3 separate regions of the Homo sapiens genome follow, and all the other regions are linked to region 2. The links come from fine-mapping of genetic effects on gene expression. A gene starts in region 2. Each other region holds a variant in brackets. All regions are shown on one strand. Distances are between the middles of the regions.

Evidence for each region. PIP is the estimated chance that this variant, and not a neighbour inherited with it, causes the effect.
Region 1: its variant is the best candidate, but not a certain one, in a credible set for the expression of NMT1 in naive CD8 T cells (Schmiedel 2018, PIP 0.77).
Region 3: its variant is the best candidate, but not a certain one, in a credible set for the expression of NMT1 in adrenal gland (GTEx, PIP 0.59).

Annotation. Positions count from the first base shown.
Region 1 is chr17:45,032,850-45,042,339 of GRCh38, reverse strand. DCAKD (dephospho-CoA kinase domain containing) reads left to right here. Exons shown (of 5, transcript NM_001288655.2): 2 at 7,341-7,566; 3 at 7,950-8,153. The coding sequence starts at 7,455. Among named protein-coding and RNA genes, the nearest start is that of DCAKD, 14 kb to the left of the region's middle. RefSeq lists enhancers at 381-1,015, 1,016-1,650, 1,651-2,285, 5,795-6,295, 6,296-6,796. The variant CG/G (reference allele first, on the strand shown) is at 6,885.
Region 2 is chr17:45,053,800-45,063,585 of GRCh38, reverse strand. It overlaps NMT1 (N-myristoyltransferase 1), which reads right to left and starts at 2,269. Exons shown (of 12, transcript NM_021079.5): 1 at 2,126-2,269. The coding sequence starts at 2,256. It also overlaps a transcript of DCAKD not described here. RefSeq lists enhancers at 1,829-1,908, 1,851-2,145, 1,999-2,358, 1,506-2,497, 2,459-2,638 and 1 more.
Region 3 is chr17:45,085,319-45,095,104 of GRCh38, reverse strand. It overlaps NMT1 (N-myristoyltransferase 1), which reads right to left. Exons shown (of 12, transcript NM_021079.5): 3 at 8,453-8,597; 4 at 1,302-1,420. Among named protein-coding and RNA genes, the nearest start is that of MIR6784, 24 kb to the left of the region's middle. RefSeq lists an enhancer at 3,880-4,381. The variant G/A (reference allele first, on the strand shown) is at 5,316.

The DNA of each region.
Region 1 (9,490 bases), 21 kb after region 2:
AGTGAGACCCTGTCTCAAAGAAGAAAAAAAAAGTCACATGAACAGAAATGAAAGTCCAAAGCATGACGAGTCCAAAGGAGGGAAAGTAAAGGGAGTGGTGAGAGATGGCAGGGGCATCATTTGGGTTGGGGGATTGGATGAGGCTCCTCCAAGGGGATGTGACTTGCTCCCATGCTGCTTCAGGTCCTGGGTCAGACAATGATGTGCCTGTCACTCTTTTTTTTTTAAGTCAGGTCTTATTCTGCACCCAGGCTGGAGTGCAGTGGTACAGTCATGGCTCACTGCAGCCTCCAACTCCTGGGCTCAAGCAGTCCTCCCATCTCAGCCTCTCAAGTAGCTGAGACTACAGACATATGCCATCATGCCCAGCTATTTTTTTTTTTTTAAGAGACAGGATCTCGCTTTGTTGCCCAGGCTGGCCTCTAACTCCTGGGCTCAAGTGATCCTCCCACCTTGGCCTCCCAAAGTGCTGCGATTGCAGGCGTGAGCCACCATGCATGGCCCCCCATTGCTCTTGATACCCTTACCCACTTACCACCACCACACTTACTGGTACTGTGAGTTTATTGTTTTACCCCTCCCCTGCTCCCCCCACCACCCCTTCTCGTGCCTGGTGTCTGATTGGTTGACACAGTCAGTACAGGGTGACTGAAGAGTAGTTAGCCCTGAGGTGAGTCTGGCAGAGAGAACACCAGCACAGAGGCTTTGGGGTCGAAAAGAGCCCGCATGTGGCTGGGCACAGTGGCTCACGCCTGTAATCCCAGCACTTTGGGAGGCTGAGGCAGGCAGATCACGAGGTCAGGAGATTGAGACCATCCTGGCTAACATGGTGAAACCCCGTCTCTACTAAAAATACAAAAAATTAGCCGGGCATGATGGCAGGCGCCTGTAGCCTCAGCTGCTTGGGAGGCTGAGGCAGCAGAATGGCGTGAACCCGGGAGGCGGAGTTGCAGTGAGCCGAGATCGCACCACTGCACTCCAGCCTGGGCGACAGAGCCAGACTCCGTCTCAAAAAAAAAAAAAGAGCCCGCATGTTCAGGGACAGAAGGAAGATCAGTGTGACAGGCACCAGGCATCGTGGACAGGGAGTGACTGAGGGAGTCACACAGGGCCTGGAGACCTCTGTGAAGGGCCAGGAGGAGGCGGGAGAAGGCAGTGAAGGTTTTAGATGGGAGTGACATGATCAGATGACTCCTTTAAGCCATGACCCTGGCTACCTTGGGGAGAAGCCAGGCCGGGACGAGGGGGTCAGGTCATGAGGCTACTGGAGTGGTCAGGGCACAGGTGCTGGTGGCTTAGGCTAACAGAGTGGGCCTAGTGGGATTAGAACTTGGCCAGACCTCCCAGAGCAGTAGGGCTTTATTTAGCCCATTAATTTTTCCCTAAGAGAAACACTGCCAGAGGAGATTCTAAGACAGACCATTCTCTGAATGTATTTATTCTTCTTGGGGCTACTGGGCCCAAGAAGTAAAAACTGAGAGGCAATTTGGAGACACCCGATGCAAAAGAGCCCACCACTTGTGGAGCACAATAGAATCTGATCGTCATTTCACAGGCCTTAGAGCTTCACTGCAGAGTTGGAGCGCAGGCACCAGCTCTAACCCAAACTCCTTGCCCTTTTCTTTGCACCCTGCTGCCTTTCACTGACATGGAGAATGAGGGAAAGAAAGGATGGGGTGTGGCTTCCCTGGGATCAGAGGCTTGCTTTTCTTTCTGGCTCCTCCTTGGCTGATGAATCCCATACCTGGGATTGGTCCCAGAATCCAGCTTCCATTTCTCCTGCACAGTGCATTGGCTCCTTCTCTGTTACTGTGGACTTGGTGTTGTCCTTCCGCCTCCAGCCAAGCCAGTTCTGTGAACAGCTTTTGGTGTTGAGGAGGAAGATTCCCAGGCCACCAACAGTAATGTCATCCCTTGGTTTGCCAGGGGAGCTTTTTTTTTTTTTTTTTTTTGAGATGGAGTCTTGCTCTTGTTGCCCAGGCTGGAGTGCAATGGCACAATCTAGGCTCACCGCAACCTCCGCCTCCCGGGTTCAAGCAATTCTCCTGCCTCAGTCTCCCGAGTAGCTGGGATTACAGGCATGCGCCACCATGCCTGGCTAATTTTGTATTTTTAGTAGAAATGGCGTTTCTCCATGTTGGTCAGGCTGGTCTCGAACTCCTGACCTCAGGTGATCCTCCCGCCTTGGCCTCCCAAAGTGCTGGGATTACAGGCATGAGCCACCACACCCGGCCTTTTTTTTTTTGAGATGGAGTCTCACTTTGTTGCCCAAGCTGGAGTCCAGAGTGGCATGATCTCTGCTCACTGCAACCTCCGCTTCCCAGATTCAAGCAATTCTCCTGCCTCAGCCTTCCGAATAGGTGGGATTACAGGCATGCACCACCACGCCCAGCTAATTTTTGTATTTTTAGTAGAGATGGGGTTTCGCCATGTTGGCCAGGCTGGTCTCGAACTCCTGGCCTCAAGTGATCCGCCCACCTTGGCCTTACAGCCACTGCGCCTGGCCCCAGGGGAGCATTTATTCACCACTCCCAGGAGAGCTCTGAACCACTGAAGGGGAGGAAGAAATCACCAGTGTGACTCTCAGCCTCCCTGGGGAGCTGCACCGTTCTTGGCACTGAAACTCCAGCCCCTCTCACTCACAAGTGTGGGGACTGAGGCTCAGAGGAGGGAAGGCACCCGGGGCTCAGCTGTTTCTTGTATGGAGTCCTTACCACCCTGGGCCAGGCTGGAGAGAAGACTTCCTGCAGTCACATGGGTAGTTTTATCACAGAATTCAGAGACCAGGACCCAGGACTTTCCACTTCCAGTCCACAGCCTTTCATTTTAGCCATGGTTCTGGGCCTAGCTGATTCAGATTCAGTGGGCTGGGGTAGATGGAGCCTGGGTGTCTGTACCTTTTGTAAGTTTCGCAGTAAATTCAGATTATAGCCAGGTTTAGCACTTGCTGTGAGGAATGTACTGCCTCTGTGTAAGCGGCAGTGGAATGTGGGAAGCCAGATCGGATTCTGGAGAATGATGACTTGACCAGAGCAGAAAGAGGGTCATGAACACAGGTGATCAAAGGTGGTCGTTTGTTCATGTGGGCCTGACAGGGAGCTGCTGGCAGGTCTAGGTGTGACTTGGAGGCCGCTGGGTACCTAAGCCTCTATTTCCTCCTTGCTGAGCTTTGGGAGCACCGTGGGCTGCAACTTCCTCCCTGGCAGATCCCAGTAGATCTGTGCGCAGCCAAGTGAGTGGGAAGGCACTCATACAGCAGGCCCAGGGCCAGCACCACCTGACCATTCCTGCTTACCTGTCAGCGCTCTGTTCTCAGATGTTTTCATCTGGTACTATCTAGCTCTCCAGTTTTCCCAAGGGGCAAGACTTGTGTTTTCCTCTGGTTACCCAAGAGGTCCCTGGCACCGTTCCTGCAGAGCACAGAGATGCTCAGTGGATGGTCAGTGAAGGAATGAGCTACAGAGGGGCTTGTTGGACAGGAACAGCTGTTATTTGTCAAGGCCCTTTTAAGTTGGGGACCCGGAGCCTCCCTGGGCGTGTGCTCCTTTGTCCGCTTGGCCTTCCTGATGGAGGCCAAGCAGCTGTTGGTCTGTTTCCACAGACACTCGGTCAAGGCACTGAGAAGGGAGGATACTCATTAGGTAACCCGGGAGGCTGGAATTTCCATCTGTGCTCTGGCCATTGTCCACACACCCCCTCAGCCCCCATTCTGCAGGAAGAAAACAGTATGATAATCAAGAAATTATTTCTCTTTGGCTCTGAATCGATTTGCCTACAAACAGATTCATCTTCCTTACTTTGTCTCATTAGTCTAAAGGTAAATTAATTTTTCATTCCTTGAGTACATTAAAGGCAGGGGTCTAGACTAGGGGTTAGGAGCCCTGAACTGCATCCAGCCTTTGATAATAGCTGCTGGTGGGAAGTCCCCTCCCTTCTCTGGTCCTCAGTCTCCACTGCTGTAAAAGAAGAGTTAGAATTTATCCTGAGCGCTGTTACACATCAGAACTGCCTGGGTGGGCAGATCACCTGAGGTCAGGAGTTTGAGCCAGCCTGGCCAACATGGTGAAACCTCGTCTCTACTAAAAATACAAAAAAATCAGCCAGGCATGGTGGTGCATACCTGTAATCCTAGCTACTCGGGAGGCTGAGGCAGGACAATCTCTTGAACCCAGGAGGCAGAGATTGCAGTGGGCCCAGATTGCACCGCTGCACGCCACCCTGGGGGACAGAGAGAGACTCTTGTCTCAAGAAAAGAAAAGAAAAGAAAAAAAGGCCAGGCATGGTGGCTCACGCCTGTAATCCCAGCACTTTGGGAGGCCGAGGTGGGTGGATCACCTGAAGTCAGGAGTTTGAGACCAGCCTGACCAACATGGTGAAACCCCATCTCTACTAAAAATACAAAAAAATTAGCCAGGCATGGTGGTGGGCACCTGTAATCCCAGCTATTCGGGAGTTTGAGGCAGGAGAATGGCGTGAACCCGGGAGGCAGAGCTTGCAGTGAGCCGAGATCACACCACTGCACTCCAGCCTGGGCAACAGAGTGAGACTCTGTCTCAAAAAAAAAAAAAAAAAGCTCTTGAAGCTTGGCGTGGTGGTTTACGCCTGTAATCCCAGTACTTTGGGAGGCTGAGGTGGGTGGATCACCTGAGGTCAGGAGTTCGAGACCAGCCATGGCCAACCTGGCAAAACCCCATGTCTACTAAAAATACAAAAATTAGCTGGGCATGGTGACGGCTGCATGTAATCCCAACTACTTGGGAGTCTGAGGCAGGAGAATCGCTTGAACCTGAGAGGCGGAGGTTGCAGTGAGCTGAGATGCGCCATTGCACTCCAGCCTGGGCAACGACAAGAGTGAAATTCCATCTAAAAAAAAAAAAATTCTTTCTAGATTTTCTATTTCAAAGCTTCAGCTGAGTGGCTGACATTTTGTTTGTTTGTTTTGTTTGTTTGTTTTTACAACTGAACCCTGTCCTTTTTGTGACCTAGAGGGAGATCACCAGCCTCAGAGAGATGGAGGAGAAATTATTATTTTTTTTAATAGAGAGAGAGCCTTGCTGTATTGCCCAGGCTGGCCTCGAACTCCTGGTCTCAAGCAATCCTCCTGCCTCAACCTCCCAAAGCACTGGGATTACAGGCGTGAACACCGTGCGTGGCCTAGAAATGATTGTTAAATAGTTGATTAATGTAGCTAGGTCTCTCCATTTGGATGATGACTCCGTGGTGGATAGTTTCCTCTCTCCACCTCTGGCTTTCCGGGGTGAGAATGAGCAGTGGCAGATTTCAATTTCTAGGTTGGTCCCCTGCTGCCCCAAGCCAGGCACCAACTCAGCCACATCCAAGCAGCTGCCTCCCCTGTCATTTGGTGTGTCCTCACGGGAGGCAAACTCATTTCAGTGTAAGCTCAAGCAAAGTGTAATTAGGACAGTAAATCTGCTGCTTAACGGCAACAAAAAAAGTCCTATGGCAGATTTTACAGTCCTGGAGAAGTGATTTGAGGCTGAAGGAAGGGTGGGAGAGACCTGGCCTTTGATTTAATTGCTTCCAGCCTGGGAACAAAGTCCAAGACATGGTAACCTCATTTACTCCAGAAAATGCACCATGACTCCTTAAAAGTTTATGGTGTGATAGTCTGAGGTTGGAGGAATAGGGACATGATTTCATGAAAGTCTTTTTTTTTTTCCTTTCTATGCCTTGCAGTGGAACTGTAACTCCTACTTTTCACCCTGTATCACTATCCTCACTTCCATTTTTGGGATATTTACCATTTATCAAGCAACATACCATGGACTGCAGATGCATTTTCTTTTTCTTTTTTTTTTTCTCTGAGACGGAGTCTCGCTCTGTCACCCAGGCTGGGGTGCAGGGGCGCAATCTCCGCTCACTGCAACCTCCGCCTCCTGGGTTCAAGCGATTCTCCTGCCTCAGCCTCCCGAGTAGCTGGGACTGCAGGCGCCCGCCACCAGGCCTGGCTAATTTTTTGTATTTTTAGTAGAGACGGGGTTTTACCATGTTAGCCAGGATGGTCTCGATCTCCTCACCTCATGATCTGCCTGCCTCGGCCTCCCAAAGTGCTGGGATTACAGGCGTGAGCCACTACGCCCAGCCAAGGCAGTCTTATGATCCTAAACCTCATTTTATGGATGAGAAAACTGAGGTTCAGGGAGGCAAGCGGCTTGCCCGGGGTTGCAGCACATGTGAGTGGAGGAGCTGGGTGTGAAGAAGCCATGCCCCAACCTTTGTGCCGTGCTGCCGCTGCTTGGTCTGAGGACGCCACAAACCACGACGCCAGCTCAAAGTCACACCACCAGCATCGCCCAGCCTCCTGGCCTTTCCCTCACATTCCTTCTTGGCAAGAGTGGTACTTTTCTAAACCTCGGCCTTAGTGGCTGCCGAGCCACTGCTTGCGGCTCAGTTCCCCATCTGGGCCAAGAGGATTGTGCGTCTCCATCTATATCAGCTACCCAGGCAGTCCTAGTGCTGGCGTTCAAGGGGAAGTGATCCATGGGACCTTCTGTGGGGAGGAGGCCTTGGGGCAAAAGAGGGCCCAGGCACCTGGACTCTATTTGTGGTCTCTTTTGCATCTTCCGTGGATGGCTGCAGGCAGGCCATTTCTTTCCTTTGAGCCTCAGTCTCCTAGACTAGAAAGTAAAGGCCAGGGGGACCAGTGGGCATCTGAAGAGTGCTGTGGGTCTACCACAGAGAGACAGGTGTCTCCTTCCTCTAGGAAGTTGGCCTCCAAGGGGATCCTGCCTCGTCCAGGAAGCATGCTGCCTAACAGCACCTGACCTTGCCCTGCCTGTTCAGCTTTTGATTGCTGAATTTATAGTGTTCGTTTGCTTTTTTTTTTTTTTTTTTTTTTAGAAGGAATCTGGTTCTGTCACCCA[CG/G]GCTGCAGTGCAGTGGTGGGATCTCAGCTTACCGCAACCTCCACCTCCCAGGTTCAAGCGATCCTCCTGCCACAGCCTTCTGAGTAACTGGAATTCTAGGTGCACGCCACCACGCCCAGCTAATTTTTGTATTTTTAGTAGAGATGGGGTTCCACCATGTTGGCCAGGCTGGTCTCAAACTCCTGACCTCAGGTGATCCACCCACCTTGGCCTCCCAAAGTGCTGGGATTACAGGTGTGAGCCACCACTCCTGGCCACATTTGCCTTCTTTGCGAGTGTTTTTAAAATACTGGAGGCCTTTCCTGGAGGGTTTCTCCTCTCCAGATGGCCCCAGAGCACCCCAAGCTCAGGACATGTCCCTCCCCAGCCAAGCTGTCTCCCTTTACTTCCTTTGCCTCCTCTCTCCCAATTATTTTGGCCCAAACTGATCAGTCCCGCTGGCCTCTCCCAAGCAGGTCCTTCTGGCACTCCTCTGGTGGACCGCCCCCATCGGCCACACTTGCCCTGCTCTCCAGTGATTCTGTAGCTCCTGGCTCCGTAGTCTCGCGGACAGCTCTCTTTCCTGGAAGATGTTTCTGGTGGGCCTGACAGGGGGCATTGCCTCAGGCAAGAGCTCAGTGATCCAGGTGTTCCAGCAGCTGGGCTGTGCGGTGATTGACGTGGACGTGATGGCCCGGCACGGTGAGTTGGAGGGGCAGGTTGGGGGGCCGTGCACAGCAGCTCCCCACGCTTCCGGCCTTCTGCCATGCCTCCTTTTTTTATAAGTCTCAGAGGAGGGGAAGGCTCCTGTTGACCCTGGTCTGACTTCTGTCTCTGCCCCGTGCTTGCCTTCTCTGCTCTTCTATTTTCTGTTTTTAGAAACCCCCCAGCTGTACCCCATTACCAGCACAAGGGATCCTGTACACTCTGCTCTTTTCCTTCACTGCTTTCTCTACCCTCATTTTGCTTTTGCTCCACCTGAAAGAAGCACCCGAGTTCCCCCATCATTTTGCCCCTGGTCACTGAGGTCCTCTGACTGGCCCTGAGGCTTCAGGGAGTGACCCAGCTTCTTCCTCCTGCCACAGTCGTGCAGCCAGGATACCCTGCCCACCGGCGCATCGTAGAGGTCTTCGGCACTGAGGTCTTGCTGGAGAACGGCGACATAAATCGCAAGGTCCTGGGGGACCTGATCTTTAACCAGCCTGACCGGCGGCAGCTGCTCAACGCCATCACCCACCCCGAGATTCGCAAGGAGATGATGAAGGAGACGTTCAAGTACTTCCTCCGGGGTAAGTGCCAGGGCCTGGGGCGGGGGGCGGGGCCTCCTTCCAGGGCCAGGGCCCTTCTCCTCTGCAGAAAGTTTGGCCAGGGTAGGGGAGCTGGTTATCCCAGCTGATGAGTTCATACTGCTTACTGGCATCCCCTCCACACAGAGCCCCGTACCAGCCCCAGAGGAAAGAAGCACGTTCCCTCAGCTCTTAAGGAGGCTGACAGTTTAATGAGAAGAGACACATGAGGCTTTCGAGCCATGAGCCCAGGAAGTAAGTTGGTTTTTCTAGTAGGGATGGGAGTAATAAGAGCTGGTGAATAATGGAGCCATAGATCTGAGTTCAAATCCCAACCCTGACTTTCTAGCTGTGTGACTTCATTGAGTGATCTCGCCCTCAGCTCATTTTTTCATTTGTGCAGTGGGGATAATAATCCAACATGAGGCTGGGCACAGTGGCTCATGCCTGTAATCCCAGCACTTTGGGAGGCCGAGGCAGGCAGATCACTTGAGGTCAGGAGTTTGAGACCAGCCTGGCCAACATGGTGAAACCCCGTCCCTACTAAAAATACAAAAATTAGCTGGGCATGGTGGTGTGCACCTGTAATCCCAGCTACTCGGGAGGCTGAGACGGGAGAATCGCTTTAACCTGGGAGGTGGAGGTTGCAGTGAACCGAGATTGCACCCTATACTCAGACTGTCTGGGCAACAGAGCAAGACTCCGTCTCAAAAAAAAGAAAAAATCCAACGTGAGCATGTTAGGAAGACTGAGGGTCCAGGTCAGTGACTGTCAGTTAATCACACATGTAAACTGCAGTCAGGGGCAGGTTTGGTTCTGGCTGAGCCATTTGGGAAAGCAAGTTTGTAGACTGGAAATTGGGAAGGGACCAAGATGGCCAGGGTGGGTAGGGGAAGGGGAGTATTTGAAATCAGAGGCCTGGGGCCAGTTGGCAAGAACCTTCTTCCAAGCTATATGCCATGGTTCAAGCCCTGTTCTTTTTTATTTTATTTTATTTTATTTTATTTTTAGAGATGGGGTCTCACTATGCTGGCCAAAGTGGTCTCAAACTCCTGGCCTCAAGCAATCCTCCCACCTTGTCCTCCCAAAGTGCTGGGATTACAGGCATGAGCCACCACACCTGGCCTAAGCCATGTTCTTCAGGACAGCATTGCACAGGGGTGGCCTGATGCTTACTTTACAGGTTGGGGTCAGTCACCAGAAGTGGGAGGGAGAACAGAGGGCGGTGGCTTGGGATCTGGCAAGAGGCTGGCCTAGGGCTGCTGGAGATTTGCATGCCAGCCTTTGGCACATGTGGCCTCCAGCCTGGGCCTCCGAGTTGAAGGCCTGGTTGCCTGTCA
Region 2 (9,786 bases):
TGAAAAGTGATTCACAGATTATAGGGCACAAACCTAAGGACACTGGTCAGGACAACAGTTAAGAAGATAAAAATAAAAGCAACTACAAAAAGAGCAAAGAAAATGCCACACTTTCACTTCTGGAATGACTTTCACATTCACCAACTCTCATCTGTGATTCAGATCTCTACTCAGGAGAGCTTCACTTTCCCTTCTTCCTGTTCCTACTTCCTCTTTCTCAGCTCTTCCATTTTTAGGAATATCAAACTTCAAAAGAAGACTTTTATTACATTAGATCTGTTGTGAGTTACAGCAACAGAACAGTCTTATAAAAACTAAATTTGGCAAGCTTCCTATTCCTCTACTTTCTTCCTGTGATTTTTTTTTTTTTTTTTTTTTTTTGAGTCGGAGTCTCGCTCTGTCGCCCAGGCTGGAGTGCAGTGGCGTGATCTCAGCTCACTGCAAGCTCTGCCTCCTGGGTTCACGCCATTCTCCTGCCTTAGCCTCCCGAGTAGTTGGGACTACAGGCGCCCGCCACCACGCCCGGCTAAATTTTTTGTATTTTTAGTAGAGATGGGATTTCACAGTGTTAGCCAGGATGGTCTCGATCTCCTGACCTCGTGATCTGCCTCCCAAAGTACTGGGATTACAGGCATGAGCCACCATGCCCGGCCCTTCCTGTGATTTTTAATGCCGGCTGAAGAACATAAAAGCTAGATCTTTTAACCTAAGATTTACCACAAGCAGATTATAAACCACTTAAATACAGTCATGCTTCACTGAACGTCAGGCATATGTGCTGGGAAATGCATGGTTAGGTGATTTTTGCCTTGCCAACATTATAGGGTGTACTTACACAAATCTAGATGGTATAGCCTACTAAATGCCTAGGCTATATGGTGTACATTACAGTAACATGCTATACAGGTTTGTAGCCTAGGAGCAATAGGCTGCTGCATGTTACTGAGTACTGCAGGCAACTATAATACAATGGTAAGTATTTGTGTATCTAAGCATACCTAAACATAGAAAGGATACAATAAAAATATGTACTATAATCTTGTGGGACCATCTCTTCTACGCAGTCCTTGGTCTTTATACCTTTATATCTGCACTGCCACCAATACTGCGAATAACAAGCTGGCTACGAAAATCAGACTACCTCAGACTCAGCAAGTTATACACCCAAAAATCTCTCACGACTTTCAGTTTAAAAATATATCTACAAATATAGACAGGAAGATGGGGAGAGACAGCGTGAGTGCCAGTGCCAGGCACTAACCATGTGAAGAAAGATGAATAAGCTGTGGCTTACAGAAGTAAAAACTAATTTGGGAAAAGAATTCAACATTCAAATGCCTGGTGTGTTTCTTCATCCCTAGGAACAAATAGTAACTAATGGCAAGACCCTAAAGTACAGGATAGGCAGTATGGAGCCCGAGGATTCCAAATACTCTCCAAGAAACAACATCGCTCATTTCTTGAAGCCTGGGGCTGCTCTGCAAAGGTAACAAGGCAAAGATGTTCGAAGACTTAATTATATTAATATATCGTTCAGGATACTTATGGATTATTTGGAGCAATGGAAACTATGTAAATCAAAGCATTACCATACCGTTAATTACATAGGTTTATAAGGTGAGTTTATATTTTGGGATTCTCTGGTAGTGATATTTTACAATATAATTATACATACAGTTTGTATAGTCTGATGAGTTTCCTCACTGAGGGTGAACTGCTGCGAAATGTTTTATGATTCGTTTATTGCTAGTCACGTTGTTCAAACAACACGTCTATAAGTAACGTTCCCTTTGAACTGTACTGTTACTAGACTGTCCTGTGTTGTACCATCGAAAACCATCGTCCAACATGCTCTTTTCCCAGGAATGGCCTGAAGCACACGAGTGGAACACTGCATAGAACTTTTATATAATAAAAGTACTGAACGTCTCCGGCCCTTAATATCCAGAGCACCCACCCTTGGTAAATGACAAAGGCAATAACCAATCGCCAGGCAGAATCCTAGTGACTTAGCCAATAAGAACATGAGGGTGGGGCTAGACTAAGCTCCCGGTGACTTCCCCGCACCCCAGAGACCCAGGTTGTGGGAGGCTGGACGGGAATTGGACTCCGAGGATTTCGTTACCCCCGGTTGTAGCTGTTGTCCTCCTCATTCTCGCAATCGCTGCAGTGCTCATGGCCGTTCCCGTTCCCTTCCATCATCTGCGGCAGCGGAGGTGCCGGCGGCTTCACTGCTGTCTCACTCTCGTCCGCCATCTTGAGTTGCGAGAGCAGGGCTCCGCGCCCCACTACATGGGGGGTTCCTATTGGACAAGGGGAATTTGCGCTGCATTCTGGGTTTTGTAGTTTTTCTGGCGAAGCGAGCTGCCACTAGGAGCGACTCTTTCCCAGGAAACTGACTACAATACCCAGGAATCACGAGGGACGGCTCCGGTCGGATTAAGAGGCGGGGCCACTGATACCCGGAAGCCTAGGCATTCGGCCACGCTTTGAGGAAAGAAGGGGCGCAAGGTTGGTGGGACCGACCCTTGGGAACCGGGCGGCCGCCTGGCATGATGGGAGTTGTAGTTCGATGCTGGTTTAGGGTTTCAGGCGTGGAGGTTCCAAAATCCGAGGTTTGATTTCAGCCTGCCCTTGCCAGTGCCTGGGCCGCTGGGAGCCGTTATTGGCTGCCGTTAAGGACCGTTACGTTTCCCGGGTAAGTGAAAGGGCCTGAGGCCCGCGGGTGCTACCTGCCTGGAGCCGGAATGCCCCAGGCCTTCTTAGAGTGGGCTTTTCCGCAAGAAGCCTAGTTGACTCCTGGCCGCCTTCCTCACTCGGGAGTCTGGGCAACCTGCGGTCATTGGCAGTTCAAGGTCTCATGAGAGGCAGTGGATTTTTTTGTGCGAAGCACTGACCCTAAGCCAGGAGACCACACTGCTAGGGAGGCAGGGCTCGCCGCCTCATCTTGGCCTCCAGGTACTTATCTTCGCCAAGCTCTTTCGCGCACACGTGGTCCCTTTAATTCCCCACAAGAATTTTCCACAACGACCCTTTTTTTCTTTTCTTTTCTTTCTTTCTTTCTTTTTTCTTTTTTAAATACGGCCGCCTTCTGTCGCCCAGGCTGGAGCGCAATGGCTCAAGATCACAGCTCACTGCAATCAAGGTATCCTCCCACCTCAGCCTCCCAAGTACCTAGGACTATAGGCATGAGCCACCACACCCGGATAATTTATATATTTTTTGTAGAGACGAGGGTCTCGCCTTGTTGCCCAGGCTGGTCTCGAACTCCTGGCCTCTAAGGATCTTCCTACCCCAACCCCGCAAAGTGCTGGGATTACAGACGTGAGCCACGGCACCCAGCCCACATCAACTCTTTCTTTAATAAGTGCCAGACTCTGTAGTAAGGCATTTCGTACATTATCTCATTTAATCCTCTCAACAAGTCTACAATATAGGTCCTATTATTATTATTCAACCTTTGTTTTGTTTTGTTTTGTTTTGAGACGGAGTCTCTCTCTGACTCCCAGGCTGGAGTGCAGTGGTGCGATCTCGGCTCACTGCAACCTTCGCCTCCTGGGTTCAAGCGATTCTCTTGCCTCGGCCTCCTGAGTAGCTGGGATTAAAGGCGCACGCCACCACACCTGGCTAATTTTTGTATTTTTAGTAGAGACGGGGTTTCACCATGTTGGTCAGGCTGGTCTCGAACTCCTGACCTCGTGATCTGCCCATTTCGGCCTCCCAAAGTGCTGGGATTAGAGGTGTGAGCCACCGTACCTGGCCATATTGACCTTTTTGACAGATGAAAAAATGTGGCCCTGAGAGGTTGGTAAATTGCACAGTCACATAGCTGGTTAAGTGGCAAATCGGTATACAAATCCAGATCTGTGTGCCCCAGGCCCTCTGAATTCTTTGCCACCATAAAAGTCCCATTTTCTGATACACTATTCACTCAAGGAAATCAGTTACTAAAAGGTAACTGTGACTCCAGTGCGTATTCTATATCAGGGGAAAAAAGGTAACTGCCACATTTTAATCTGTTTTTAACCTTGATTGAATGTTTCAGTCCCTGAGTCTCACTCTTTTGATTGAGTAATCTCGCCTAAGTGCCCAAAGACATGGTTCCCATTCTTGGAAATTTCCTATTCGGGTTGAGTGTGGTGGGTGATGAGAGGACTAATTCTTACCATCAGAGTGCTCCATGGCCAAAAAGGGAAATGATCTTTGCCTTTGGGAAAGATCTCAACATGGGAAGAATGGCAGGGCGGGAAGAAACAGTTCCCATCTGACTCAGGGAAAGAAAACACAAATAAAACACAGAACTAAATATAGTCAACTCTTTCTTTCTTTTTTTTTTCTGAGACGGAGTCTCGCTCTCTTGCTCTGTCGCCCAGGCTGGATTGCAGTGGCGCGATTTTGGCTCACTGCAAGCTCTGCCTCCCGGGTTCACGCCATTCTCCTACCTCAGCCTCCCAAGTAGCTGGGACTACAGGTGCCCGCCACCTCACCCGGCTAATTTTTTGTATTTTTAGTAGAGACGGGGTTTCACCGTGTTAGCCAGGGTGGGCTCGATCTCCTGACCTCGTGATCTGCCCGCCTCGGCCTCCCAAAGTGCTGGGATTACAGGCGTGAGCCACCGCGCCCGGCCAACTCAACTCTGTTTTTATATCAATGGCATAAGCATAAGTAATTATGATCCAAAGCAGCAGATAATCCTCAGTCATTTATATTTGACTTTGGAAGGCAGTCAAAGATGCCCACTCAGTCTGAGAGCTGTCACCACACTCAACTCTCCGGGGTCTAAGACTGCTGTTCAACGCGATTGCCCTATTTGCAGCTGCAGGGAAGGGGGGGGTCAGAGGTAAGAAGAAGAATAATAAAGCCAGGCCAGGCGCTGGGGCTTATGCCAGTAATCCCAGCACTTTGGGAAGCCGAGGTGGGTGGATCACCTGAGGTCAGGAGTTCGAGACCAGCCTGGCCAACGTGGCGAAACCCCGTCTCTACTGAAAATACAAAAAAATTAGCTGGGCTTAGTGGTGGGCGCCTATAATCCCAGCTACTTGGGAGGCTGAGACGCGAGAATCTTTTGAACCTGGGAGGCGGAGGTTGCAGTAAGCCAAGATTCTGCCACTGCACTCCAGCCTGGGTGACAAAGTGGGACTCTGTCTCAAAAAAAATAAAAAGTAGGCTGGGCGTGGTGGCTCATGCCTGTAATCCCAGCACTTTGGGATTACAATAATAAAATAAAAGATAAAAAGATATTTTGTGTGTTATTTTTATTTATTATTATTTTTGAGACTGTCTCGCTCTGTCGCCTACGCTGGAGTGCAATGGCGCAATCTCGGCTTGCTGCAACCTCTGCCTCCTGGATTCAAGTGATCCTGCCACCTCAGCCTCCCCGGTAGCTGGGACTACAGGTGCGCACCCCCATGCCTGGCTAATTTTTGTACTTACAGTAGAGATGGGGTTTCACCACGTTGGCCAGGCTGGTCTTAAACTCCTGACCTCAGGTAATCCACCTGCCTTGGCCTCCCAAAGTGCTGGAATTACAGGTGTGAGCCACCACGCCCAGGCTTTTTTTTTTTTTTTTTTTTTTTTGAGACGGAATCTCACTGTCACCCAAGTTGGAGTGCAGTGGCACAATCTCGACTCATTGCAACCTCTGCCTTCCAGGTTTAAGCGATTCTCCTGCCTCAGCCTCCCAAGTAGCTGGGATTACAGGTGCCTGCCACCACGCCCAGCTAATTTTTGTACTTTTAGTAGAGACAGGGTTTCACCACGTTGGCCAGGCTGGTCTCGAACTCCTGACCTCAGGTGATCCGCCCACCTCGCTCTCCCAAAGTGCTGAGATTACAGGTGTGAGACACTGCACCTGGCCTGAATTACTGTTTTTTTTTTTTTTTTGAGATGGAGTCGCACTCTGTTGCCCAGGCTGGAGTGCAGTGGCACTATCTCGGCTCACTGCAACCTCTGCCTCCTGGATTCCAGCAGTTCTCCTGCCTCAACCTCCCGAGTAGCTGGGATTACAGGCACACACCGCCATGCCCAGCTAATTTTTTGTATTTTAGTAGAGACGGGGTTTCACCATGTTGCCCAGGCTGGTCTCCAACTCCTGAGCTCAGGCAATCCGCCTGCCTCGGCCTCCCAAAGTGCTGGGATTACAGGCATGAGCCACTGCGCCCAGCCGAGAGCTTTCCACTTTGAAACAATTTTGGTTTGTGAAAAGCTGGCCCGGTTCTGCCTTATGGAGTTATGCAGAAATATAGCTGGGTGAGGTGGCTCATGCCTGTAATCCCAACACTTTGGGAGGCTGAGATGGGTGGATCACTTGAGCCCAGGAGTGTGAGACCTGCCTGGGCAACATAGAGGACCCTGTCTCTAAAAAAAATACAAAAATTAGCGTGGCATTGTGGCATGCACCTATGGTTCTAGCTACTTGGGAGGCTGAGGTGGGAGGATCGCTGGAACCCAGGATCATGCCACTGCACTCCAGCCCGGACAACATGGCAAGGCCCCGTCTCTATATAAATAGGAAAAAAGGGCCAGGCGCAGTGGCTCACGCCTGTAATCCCAGTACTTTGGGAGGCCAAGGCGGGCAGATCATGAGGTCAGGGGATCGAGACCATCCTGGCTAACATGGTGAAACCCTGTCTCTACTGAAAATACAAAAAATTAGCCAGACGTGGTGGCGGGCGTCTGTAGTCCCAGCTACTTGGTAGGCTGAGGCAGGAGAACGGTGTAAACCAGGGAGGCGGAGCTTGCAGTGAGCGGAGATCACGCCACCGCACTCCAGCCTGGGTGACAGAGCGAGGCTCTGTCTCAAAGGAAAAAGGGCCAGGCACGGTGGCTCATGCCTATAATCCCAGCACTTTGGGAGGCCAAGGCAGGCGGATCACCTGAGGTCAGGAGTTTGAGACCAGCCTGGCCAACGTGGTGAAACCCCGTCTCTACTAAAAATACAAAATTTAGCTGGGCACAGTGGTGGACGCCTGTAATCCCAGCTACTCGGGAGGCTGAGGCAGGGAGAATTGCTTGAACCCGGGAAGTGGAGGTTGCAGTGAGCCGAGATCGCACCATTGCACTCCAACCTGGGCGACAGAGCAAGACTCTGTCTTGGGAAAAAAAAAATATATATAAAAAAGAGTGCAGGCAGAGTGTGACTCCCTGGGTTCTAAATCCTGGCTCTGCCTCTGACTTAATGAATGACCTTAGGCAAGTCACTTAACCTCTGAGCTTTGATGTCATTATCTGTAAAATAAGACTTACATAGAGAGCCCTAAAAGTGTCTAGGACAGAATTAATACCCACTTAATTAGTATTTCCCTTCCCAGGAAGTCAGCATTACTGGTATGATAACCAAAGAAAAGTTTTCTTCATGATGTCCATCACAGATCAAGGCCTTTGCTGTACTTCCAGCATGTCAGAGATAACCTTCTTTTTTTTTTTTTTTTGAGACGGAGCTTTGCTCTTTTTGCCTAGGCTGGAGTGCAATGGTGCAATCTCTCCTCACTGCAACCTCTGCCTCCTGAGTTCAAGCGATTCTCCTGCCTCAGCCTCCTGAGTAGCTGGGATTACAGGTGCGAGCCACCATGCCTGGCTAATTTTTTGTATTTTTAGTAGAGAAGGGGTTTCACCATGTTGGCCAGGCTAGTCTCAAACTCCTGACCTCAGGTGATCCCCTGCCTTGGCCTCCCAAAGTGCTGGGAGTACAGGTGTGAGCCACTGTGCCCGGCCACATATAACCTTTCTTCTGGTGGACCTACGAAGCCATGAGATAGATTGTGATTCATTTATTCCAACCTCGGGAACACTGATGACTTGTCAGCCTCTATGGCAGGAACTGGAGAGTCAGGGGTAGAACAGTTCTAGCACAGTGCCTAAGAAAGTGGGGAGCACAGGCTGTCCAGAGGCAGGAGATCCTGGGGGGACATGGTGGCTTAGCTGAATGTTCATCAGGACAGTAAACAAACTGGGGTGGACCTTCTAGGTAGAAAGTCCAGGTGCCTGAGACTTGGGTGCTTTTGAGGTATGGCAATGAGAATGATATGACTTAGGACTGGAGCTTAGAAAGTGAGGAGTGTGTGCCTGTGGTTCCAGCTATTCAGTGGGAGGCTGAGATGGGAGGATCACTTGAGCCTGGGAGGCAGAGGTCACAGTGAGCCAAGATCGTGCCACTGCACTAACCTGGGTAACAGAGTGAGACCCTGTCTCAAAAATAAATAAATAAATAAATAAATAAATAAACGTACAGAAAATAAATTTAAAACCAGGAGCCAAAGGAGTCATCTCTAATGGACTCAGGGTTGTTCATCAAACAAAATGAGAAGCAGAACTGTATTCCAGGCATCATGCTAAATGCTAAGGACACAGAGGTGACTGAGATGCAGGCCACTCTCAGGATAAAATGAGATTGTGTAAGTAGCTACAGCCAGCTCAAAGTTTCTTATTGCCATCCTGAATCATGAAAGACATATATTTGAGCTGAAAAAGCCCTTGATGGCATCACATGGAAACTCCAAAGCCCAAGTTTCATTATGGAGGAGGTGCCTGGGTTGAAGGCCCTGTAGCAGCCCTTCACCCTTTCCTATGGGATCTTCCTGGGGCAGAGGTGCAGCTGCTTTTGGCAAATCGGACCACAAGGATACCTCCTTGGAAGACAAGGCTCTCACTTGTACATGAATAGTTATAATACTGTAAGGCAGTATCTGAGAAAAGTAGGGTCATCTGGACGGTTTCCTAACACTGTGTCCCAGGAAGATCCAGATAATTTGGGGGGACAGGCCAGGCCTGTTCCTATCCCTGTCTTGGCCAGCCATGATTACTGGTGGGAGTCTGGGTATCCCTTGGATGTGTCAGGAGTAGGGAAAAGGGTGAGAACCACAGGATTAGGTTAGCTATACATTGTTTGATCAAGGAAGGGAATTGAGCCATTAAATCTGGCTCTATAAAATAGAATTAGATTTGTTCTGTATGGCCCCACGGTTTAAAACTAGGAGAGATACTGCCTAAGAAAGAACTTTCTAACTGCCAAGACTGGACTTGAAAAAATAACAACTGTCAGCCAGGTGTGGTGGCTCACACCTGTAATCCCAGCACTTTGGGAGGCTGAGGCAGGCAGATCGCCTGAGGTTGGGAGTTCGAGACCAGCATGGCCAGCATGGTGAAACCCCATCTCTACTAAAAATGTAAAAATTAGCCTGGCATGGTGGCAGGCACCTGTAATCCCAGCTACTAGGGAAGCTGAGGCAGGAGAATCACTTGAACCCGGGAGGCGGAGGTTGCAGTGAGCTGAGATCACGCCATTGTACTCCAGCCTAGGCAACAGAGCCAGACTCTGTCTCAAAAAAAAAAATAAATAAAACTGTCTTGAGTGGCAGTGAGTTCCCCAACATGGGACATGTACATGTATACATGGCAGAGATAATGTGGAAGAGATTCAAATACTGGCAGGGTGTTTGTACCAAATGGCCCTTTTGGACACAAGATGGAATCCTTTTTATTGGGTGATGGCAGTAGGTCTCCTTGACTGTTGAAGTCAGGAAGAAAGCTTTCAGGGACTCAGGTGATCTGAGAAAGATGTTAAATTACTTAATTCCTCAATATACTGAATCCCTACTGTGCAGGGCACTGGGTATTGTAGTAGTAGATAGGCAAGATTCCTACCTTAAAGGAAGTAGAGAATAGAGATACAGTTTAAGGAAAGGGAAGGGAGACAGGGTAGGTGTTAATTAAAAACTTCCTGCTGGTGAGGCACCGTGGCTCATGCCTATAATCCCAGCACTTTGGGAGGCCGAGGTGGGTGGATCA
Region 3 (9,786 bases), 32 kb before region 2:
GCGCAGTGGCTCATGCCTGTAATCCCAGCACTTTGGGAGGCCGAGATGGGTGGATCATGAGGTCAGGAGTTCGAGACCAGACTGGCCAACACAGTGAAACCCCATCTCTACTAAAAATACAAAAATTATCCATGCATGGTGACAGATGGTTGTAATCTCAGCTACCTGGGAGGCTGAGGCAGGAGAATCACTTGAACCTGGAAGGTGGAGGTTGGGGTAAGCCAAGATCGCGCCACTGCACTCCAGCCTGGGCAACAGAACCAGACTCTGTCTCAAAAAAAAAAAAAAAAGCCAGGCCTAGTGGCTCATTGCCTGTAATCCCAGCACTTTGGGAGGCCAAGATGGGCAGATCACCTGAGGTCAGGAGTTCGAAACCAGCCTGGCCAACATGGTGAAACACCATCTTTTCTAAAAATATAAAAATTAGCTGGGCGTGGTGGCACTCACCTGTAATCCCAGCTACTCGGGAGGCTGAGGCAGGAGAATCGCTTGAACCCAGGAGGCAGAGACTGCAGTGAACTGAGATGGTGTCACTGCACTCCAGCCTGGGCAACAGAGCGAGACTCCATCTCAAAAAAAAAAAAAATTCTGTTGACTTTTTTTTTTTTTTGAGACAAAGAGTCTCGCACTGTCACCTGGGCTGGAGTGCAATGGTGAGATCTCAGTTCACTACAACATCCCCCTCCCAGGTTCACGAGATTCTCCTGCCTCAGCCTCCTGAGTAGCTGGGATACAGGCGTACACCACCACACCTGGCTAATTTTTTGTATTTTTAGTAGAAATGGGGTTTTATTATGTTGGTCAGACTGGTCTCAAACTCCTGACCTCATGATCCGCCTGCCTCAGCCTCCCAAAACGGTGGGATTACAGGTGTGAGCCACCACGCCCGGCGACATTTTCATCATTCTTTATAAGGGAAATAAATCCCTCAGGTCAAAACAAGGGGCTCTGGGTGGCCGGGGTGGAAAGGGGAGGACAGGGCCTCATTTAGCAGCCCCAGCTGCTCCAGTCAGGAGACAGACTAGAAAGAAAATGAGGAAATGAATGAACAAAAAAGAATAAATGAAAAACAGGTATCCACATCGGGGACCTACAGAGGTTAACTTCCAACCTGCCAGAAAAGCTAAGAGCTATTTATGTGGAGTCTTGGCCATGCCCCAGGAAGTTACAGACGGGAGTCTGTTCAGACCTCCTTGGCTCAGCTCTCTAGGGCTCGAGTAAACGTAGTCTAGGTGAGACTGCAGGGCTTACTGTGAAAGTGGCTCCTACCCGCAGGTGTAACCTTCTGAGGGCCCACTCACCACACCACGATCGCCCAGGTCCAAAGCATCCCAGGTGAAGCCCTGGGGCAGGGTGTAGGGCTCCTGGCGGATATTGTCCTTGTCAGGCTCCACGGGGCCATGGGTGTTCACCACTTCGCCTGAAAGAAGAGCACAGCTGTGAGCCTCACCCTTTGCCCCCTCGGGGCAGTAAAGGGCTCAGTTCAAAACTCAACCAGAGCAAATTCCTCCTGTCCCTAGGAGCCCTCTATCTGAAGAACATTCTGTGCTTGGCAACTGCAAACCGTCTTTCCAGCTACCCTTAGCCCCTAACTGAGGGCCAATTCATGGCAAAACCTCAGGACAATCACTGGGATCCAAGGTGGTTCGTGTTTTGGAAATCCATTTAAATCTCCCTTGGGTCACTGAATGACAAACATTTATCTTTAGTAATTTGGCTTCCTGCCTCCTGGTTGGTGTAAAGAGTGCTGTCAGGGCCCTGGCCCAGGCCCATCAGTCTGGATGGGTTTGTAAGGAGTCACAACAAGGCTGCTTTTGTGTCAACAGCAACAACAATGTACTGGGCCCATTTCTGAACCAGATGATGGCTTCTAGGCGCCAGGCTCAATCGTGGCCCTGCCAGCCTTGGCTTTCAGCAGCGTGAGCCAGTTAACTGCTACTGCCAACTCAGGCCCTCAGTGTTTAGAGTCCTGCAAGTGCCTTTGGGCTGAATCACCAAGTCTACATAGTGCTGCCGGGAAGTCACCCTGACACAACATCCCCTCCCTGAGCAGGATAGGCCCCTCCTCTGTGGGAGCATGTGGGGAGTGCTCCAAAGACACAGCCCTCATTCCTATCCAGAGCTCAATCGGACTCATATATGCTGAGAGATTCACCACTGAATTCTGGCCCTTGGGATGATTTCGGTTCTACAATGGGCTCACTCATGTTTACACTGGGAAGAATGCAATGTTTAGTGCATTTTGGAAAATGGAGTCTTCAAAAGGGACCAACCCAGTAACAGTGTTCCTAGCAAAGGGCTCTGTATAGACTAGGCACTCAATTCATGCTTTTACTGACTTTCAGACTCCTGATCCCAAATATTTTTTTTTTCTTTTCTTTTCTTTTTTTTTTTTTTGAGACAGTCTCATTCTGTCGCCCAGGTTGGAGTACAGTGGTGCGATCTTGGCTCACTGCAACCTTCACCTCCCTGGTTCAAGCAATTCTCCTGCCTCAGACTCCCGAGTGGCTGGAATTACAGGTGTCCGCCACCACGCTGGCTAATTTTGGTGTTTTGTTTTTTTTTTTTCAGTAGAGATGGAGTTTCACCATGTTGGCCAGGCTGGTTTCAAACCCCTGGCCTCAAGTGATCCACCCGCCTCGGCCTCCCAAAGTCCAAACATTTCATTCTAACATGTAACAGGAAGCTCTAGACCTTCCCAGAATGATAATCTGTGGGGCAAGTGTGGTGGAAAGGGCTGCATCAGGCTGCAGCACACGACACCACCGCTGGCACTGATCATCTCACCCTCTTCCATCAGACACATTACTGAGCACCAACCGTGCACCAGTGACTCAGTGACCATGCCAGCCCCTAGTGTACAGCAGGAAAAAGGACCAAGTCCCTGTCCTCATGAGACATACCATCTTCTGGGGAAATAGTAAATAAATGAGTCATTATCCACGTGCTGCAGGTCAGGATCTGGAAAGTGCAGGGACACACAACAGGGAAGCAGCCTGCTCTGTTGGTAATCAGGCTTCCCAACAGGTTTGCTTGGGAGAGAGGTCATATTTTTCTTCCCTAGTTAGGAAACTCATGACTGGCGAGATGGGGTCTTGCTCTGTTGCCCAGGCTGGAATGCAGTGGCGTAACCTTGGTTCACTACAGCCTCGACCTCCTAGGCCCAAACGATCCTCCCATCTCAGCCTCTCGAGTGGTTGGGACTATAGGCATGCGCCACTACGCCTGGCTAATTTTATTTTTCATAGAGATGAGGTCTCACTGTTGCCCAGGCTGGTCTCAAACTCCTAGACTCAAGTGATCCTCCTGCCTTGGCCTCCCAAAATGCTGGGATTATAGCATGAGCCACGGCGCCCAGCCAAAACCCACCATTTGATTATTCATAAAGTAGCTCTTGTGAATTTAAGTCAATCCGCTTCCAACTGACAGCTATGTATATTAAAAAAACATTTTTGAGCCTACAAAACTGAGGGCCAGACCCTCTAGTCTTATCTAGGTGCTAATTTCCCAACTTGTATTGAATTTATACCTTTTCCTATACACTTCAGAACCTTCTTTTTTTCCCCCTGAATTATTTCCATGGCCAAGAATACTGATGGTCTTCCCTATTGTACTAAAATAACCTCAAGGCTAAATCTTCTCATTTAGGCTGGCTACTAGGTCCTACACGCAACAGGCACTTCCATTCACTCACTCCTTCACCAAGTGTTCACTGAATCCTAGAATGTGCCAGTTCTGTGGCAGGGGCTGGCGAATGAAACAGACACAGGTCCTCACCATCATGGACACCAAAGAGATGAGCAAGGATGCACATGCCACCCGGCATGGTGAGGGCCAGTAAGAATGAAGTACAGGGTGCTATGGGACGTGTGTGTGTGTGTGTGTGTGTGTGTGTGTGTGTGTGTGTGTGTGTGTGTCAGGAAAGACCTCTCAGAGGAAATATCTAACGACAAGACCTCAAGGATAATTAGGAATCAGCCAGGCTGCAGGTGGACTATGTGGGGCAGGGTGGGTGTGAAAAAGTAGAGCTACAGGAAACACTGAAAAGGGAGCAGCCACTTTTACTAGACTCCCACTGTGGAGTGCCCTCGATGCCAAGAAGCAGCCCAAGGCTCCTGTGCTGTCCTCGGTGTGGTGCCAGCATCATGGCCTCTGCTTGTCCTGCTCTGTGGGGAGCAGCCTGCCTTCTCCCTTACAATGGCCTTTGAGTACCTCCTGCTGAGCAGGGGTGGAAGGCTGCTCTGCAGAGCACAGCAAGAATGCAGCTGATTCTCTCAAGGCCAACATGAACCAATAAATGACTAAGGATGACACTTCGAACTTGCTTTAAAAGAATCTGGAAGTTTAAAGAAAACCCTGAGCTTTCAATGGGTTTCTTTCTGCACACTCTTCCCTCAAAATTCTCTCCATGACATCAAACATCAGAGACCCAAAACTAAGCAATGCGGTGCAACTGTGAAGGACTTCGGAGAAATGAGAATGTCTGAGATGCGGAAAACATTAAACCAAACAAAGGCCAAGGAGAGGAAAAAGAGAGGGGAAGCTTCTCTCTGGGACCCATGGAAACCAGGTGAGTGCACATCCTCCCTTTGATAGTGACTTTTTAAAACAGAGTGGCCACACTGCATTCCACTGACCAAAGACAGAAAAGGATACTGCTTCCGTTGACATGAGTGGGAAAGGGGTGACTTTAAAAAGAAGAACGACATGATCTCGAGTGGGGGATCAAAAGTTCATCTGCGGCTCTTACAGTTGTTACACAGACTAAAACACTTCTGCTAAGAAGGCCTTTCATTTTTATTTATTTATTTTTTAATCTTTGAGACAGGGACTCGCTTTGTCACCCAGGCTAGAGTGCAGTGGCACGATCATGGCTCACTACAGCCTCGACCTCCAGGACTCAAACGATCCTCCCACCTCAGTCTCCTGAGAAACTGGGACCATAGGCATGTGCTACCATGTCTGGCTAATTTTTAAATTTTTTTGTAGAGACGAGGTCTTTCCCTGTTGTCCAGGCTGGTCTTGAGCTGCTGGGCTCAAGCAATCCTCCTGCCTTGGCCTCCCAAAGTGCTGGGATTACAGGCATTGAGCCACTACACCCGGCCTAAGAAGGCCTTTCCATGGTAAACCTAGGATAATTTTAAGCTTCTAAAGAATTGCAGGTCTCAGTCAGGTGCAGTGGCTCACGCCTATAATCCCAGCACTTTGGGAGGCTAAGACAGGAGGACAGCTTGAGCCTAGGAGTTTGAGACCAGCCTGGTCAACATAGTGAAACCATGTCTCCACAAAAAATTTAAAAATTAGCCAGGCATGTG[G/A]CAGGCACCTGTAGTCCCAGCTACTCAGGAGGCTAAGGTGGGAGGATTGCTTGAGCCCAGGAGATCAAGGCTGCAGTGAGCCATGATCATACCACTGCACTCCAGCCTGGGCAGCAGAGCGAGATCCTGTCTCAAGAAAATAAAAGAGAGGGCCGGGTGCGGTAGCTCATGCCTGTAATCCTAGCACTTTGGGAGGCCAAGGCACGTGGATCACGAGGTCAGGAGTTCAAGACCAGCCTGGCCAAGATGGTGAAACCCTGTCTCTACTAAAAATACAAAAATTAGCCGGGCGTGGTGGTGGGCACCTGTAATCCCAACTACTCGGGAGGCTGAGGCAGAGAACTGCTTGAACCTGGGAGGCAGAGGTTGCAGTGAGCCGAGAAAACGCCACTGCACTCCAGCCTGGGCGACAGAGTGAGACTCTGTCTCATAAATAAATAAATAAATCAGAGAGACTTGTAGGTTTCTTTAGTGGAATACCATCTAATTAAAACTCTCCCAAGAAGGTGGAGAGTACTGTAAAAACACAGTGCAGCTGATATGCACGAGATTTATAATCATTAGTCCTCCAATTAAGTGAAAAAAAAATTAGGGCAAGAAGCTGTAGGTACCACCACCCCTGAGAAAACTCAGAACTAGGGTGACGCCTCAGCCATGCAGGCTAACACGCCTGCCAAGGTGGCACTTTTTACAGGCTGACACAAACACAGGAATCTAACTGGGGCTTGACTGACCCTGGACCTCAAAGGCAGACTAGTCAGATGCTCAGGGTGACTGCTCTTCCATGGAGTCCGACACCACACACTGCACAGAAGGCAAAGCCAGAAGAAATAAAACCAGACCTTGTTCCTCCTTCCTCAAAGTGTCAGGGCCCGTATGAGCAACTGTGTGGTTTTCTCTTGAGCTTTCTGAGAACTAAACTGAAGCACTTTCTACATTTACAGGTGAAAGGAAAACAAAGTATGCTGGGCTGAAGAGGAACAGAAGCAAATTAATCCCAAGCTGCCTCTTTTTTTTTTTTTTTAAATTCATTTTTGAGATGCATTCTTGCTCTGCTGCCCAGGCTGGAGTGCAGTGGTGCGATCTCAGCTTACTGCAACCTCTGTCTCCTAGGTTCAAGTGATTCTCCCACCTCAGACTCTCAAGTAGCTGGGATCACAGGCCCATGCCACCAGCCCAGCTAGTTTTTGTATTTTTAGTAGAGACGAGGTTTTACCATGTTGGCCAGGCTGGTCTCGAACTCCTGACCTCAGGTCATCCGCCTGCCTCGACCTCCCAAAGTGCTGGGATTACAGGCGTGAGCCACTGCGCCCAGCCTCAATCTGCCTCTTTCCCAAGTGCCACTATCTGTGAAGAATGTAGCAAGGTTACTCATTTGCAAATTCCTCAGGAAAAATAAAATCAAACCAAAACTCCAAAATGCCATCTGAAAACAGAGCCAAGATACATGGCAGCCACCACACAACACCTCATCAGGGATTTCATTCAGAGGTGAGATGTGTGGCTCTCTGCATCTTTCCTGCTCCTCAGCGAGAAACTGGTCACTGGGACCCTACCCTGTGGCCCAAAGCCTTGCTGGAGGGCTTAGCCAGTGGGCCTGGGACCTGGCCGATGAGGGCAGCCAAACACACACGGTGATGGGGGAATCAGCACCCCTCTTGTCCACCTGGGCAGTGCTCTGCTCTCCCTCACCCGTGGGGATGCACCTCCTCAGCTTGCTTCTATTGTGACCAAGCTTCTAAGAACTGCATCCGCTCTAGAGCAGAGCTTCTCAAACTTTCAAAGTGGACAGAAATCCTCTGGCAGTTCTGATTCTGCAGCTTTGGGGTGGGGCCCGACAAACTGCATTTCTACTAGCAATTAGGCAATGCCCATCCTGCAGGTCTGCAGGCCTCATGGATTAGCTGCTCCCAACCTCTGCAGCAAACAAATCTCCTTGGGCACAGCTGCCTTCCTCACCTCACCAGTCTTTAGCCCTACCCTGTCTGGCCCTGCCCCACCCTCCTCCTCTGCACCGAACATACTAGTGAAGTCTCATTGTGTTTCTGGAGGGGAGCAGTAATGTGGACAAGCTGAAAGTCATTTACATTTGGTGTTGGAATATGTTTTTTTCAACATACTTACTTTCCCAGTCACAAAGAAAACAGGAACTAGGCCACCAATGGGTCCAGAATCATGTTACAACCACTTCAGAAACTTTGTCAGCTGAGTCCTGAAGTCAGCCATCAAGGTTGGCTTGGCTCAGTCTTGGCAGGCACGTCTAACAGGATCCAGTCCCTTCCAGAATCCTTTTAGATATTCTGCCTATTCCACCCCTTTAGCAATTCATTATAGCTTTTTTAAGGGGTGCTAATGAAATCTATATATAGTATTCCTGTTGTTGAACCATCACTGCTAAGCAAAATCTCAAACCACTTTGCATTTAGTAAGCATGCATTGGCTAGGAGACAAAGGGGAAGAGGCTGGGGACTTTGCCCATTCCAGGAATAAACATGTGCCCAGACAAACAAGACAAAGTCTCTATAAACCTAAGTGGAAAAAAGACCTCTGGGCAGACATTCCCACTCTTCATGTGCCAATAGTTTTGTTTTGTTTTTTTTTTGGGTTTTTTGGTTTGTTCGTTTTTTGAGTTGGGGGTCTCACTCCTGTCACATAGGCTGGAGTGCGGTGGCGTGATCTCAGCTCACTGCCGCCTTGACCTCCCAGGTTCAAGTGATCTTCCCACCTCAGCCTCCTGAGTAGCTGGGACTACAGGTGCATGTCACTATGCCTGGCTATTTTTTTTTTTTTTACTTTTTGTGGAAACAAGGTCTATGTTGCCCAGGCTGGTCTCGAACTTTTGGGCTCAAACAATCCTCCCACCTCGGCCTCCCAAAGTGCTGAGATTATAGGTGTGAGCCAGTGCTGTTGGCAAGAATCATTATTTGTTCTCAAGGTGTGCTGCTATAAAATGGTAAGGTCTCTGAATGATAGTCTTTATGCTGCATTTTTAAAAACCACCCTCTGAAAACAACTACCAAGGAACTCCAGGACTCTACTGCCCTCCCTACAGTAATTCAGCATGAAACCCTCATGAAGGCACAGCTGAGGCAGATCCCTCGCCCCTGACCTGGCAAAGAAAGCAAGCATGTACATACCCAGCTTGGGGACGGGCTGCGTATCCCAGAACTGGTAGCTTCGCTTGCTAGCCTCCTCCATGGTTTTGGCAGGTCCCTGACCCACTGAGAACAGCTCAATGGCCTTCTGTATTTCCTGGATCCTCTCTGCTGGCAAAGAGTTCATCTGGACAAGACAAAGTTGGGGAGAAAAAAGGCCCATTATGTTAGTAAGACTTTTGATTAATTATGAGTTCAAGAGTTAAGGGGAGCTGGGTGCAGTGGCTCATGCCTGTAATCCCAACATTTTGGGAGGCCAAGGCGGGCAGATCACTTGAGGTTAGGAGTTCGAGACCCACCTGACCAACATGGTGAAACCCTGTCTCTACTAAAAATACAAAAATTAGCCAGGCGTGGTGGCGGGCACCTGTAATCCTAGCTATTTTGGGAGGCTGAGGCAGGAGAATCACTTGAACCTGGGAGGCAGAGGATGCAGTGAACCGAGATGGCGCCATTGCACTCCAGCCTGGGCGACAAAGCTAGACTCCGTCTCAAAAAAAAAAAAAAAAAGAGTGCTGGGCGCAGTGGCTCATGCCTGTAATCCCAGCACTTTGGGAGGCCGAGGGAGGTGGATTGCCTGAGCTCAGGAGTTCAAGACCAGCCTGGGCAACATGGTGAAACCCTGTCTCTACTAAAATACAAAAAATTAGCCAGGCATGGCGGCGTGTCCCTGTAATCCCAGCTACTCAGGAGGCTGAGACACGAGAATTGCTTGAACCTGGGAGGCAGATGTTGCAGTAAGCTAAGATCACACCACTGCACTCCAGCCTGGGTGACAGAGCAAGAATCCATCTCAAAAAAGAAAAAAAAAAAAAGAGTTAAAGGGTACAATTCAAAGAAGGGGTTTGGTTCCTCTGTCCTAATCCCAGAGGTCATTACAACCAGAGAAAAAGTGGTTGACAATGAGCTATATGATGGGTGGGTGCTGCCCGCAGGGTTTCTCCCCTTATTAGTCTTATGTTGTTTGATGGCAAAAGTAATACATGCTCAATGTAAATTTCAAACAATGCAGAAATGTGTAAGACACATAGAAAGTAAACACCCACAATCCCATCCCCCAAATATAATCTTTGTGATCAATAGTCTTCACTTGGGAAGGTGAGAAGAGGCAAATATAATTCCAGACTTTTTTGCATACAAGTTCCAAATGCACACACACTTTTCAAAAACTAAAATTGGATCATATAATATTATCGTACAAACTGCTCTTTAAAGACTGTCTTAGAGACCTTTCCAGGTGAAAACACCTGGACCTACCCATTCTACCAAGTCCACTGTATGTATGGACCACAGTATATTTAGCCAGCCCCCTACTC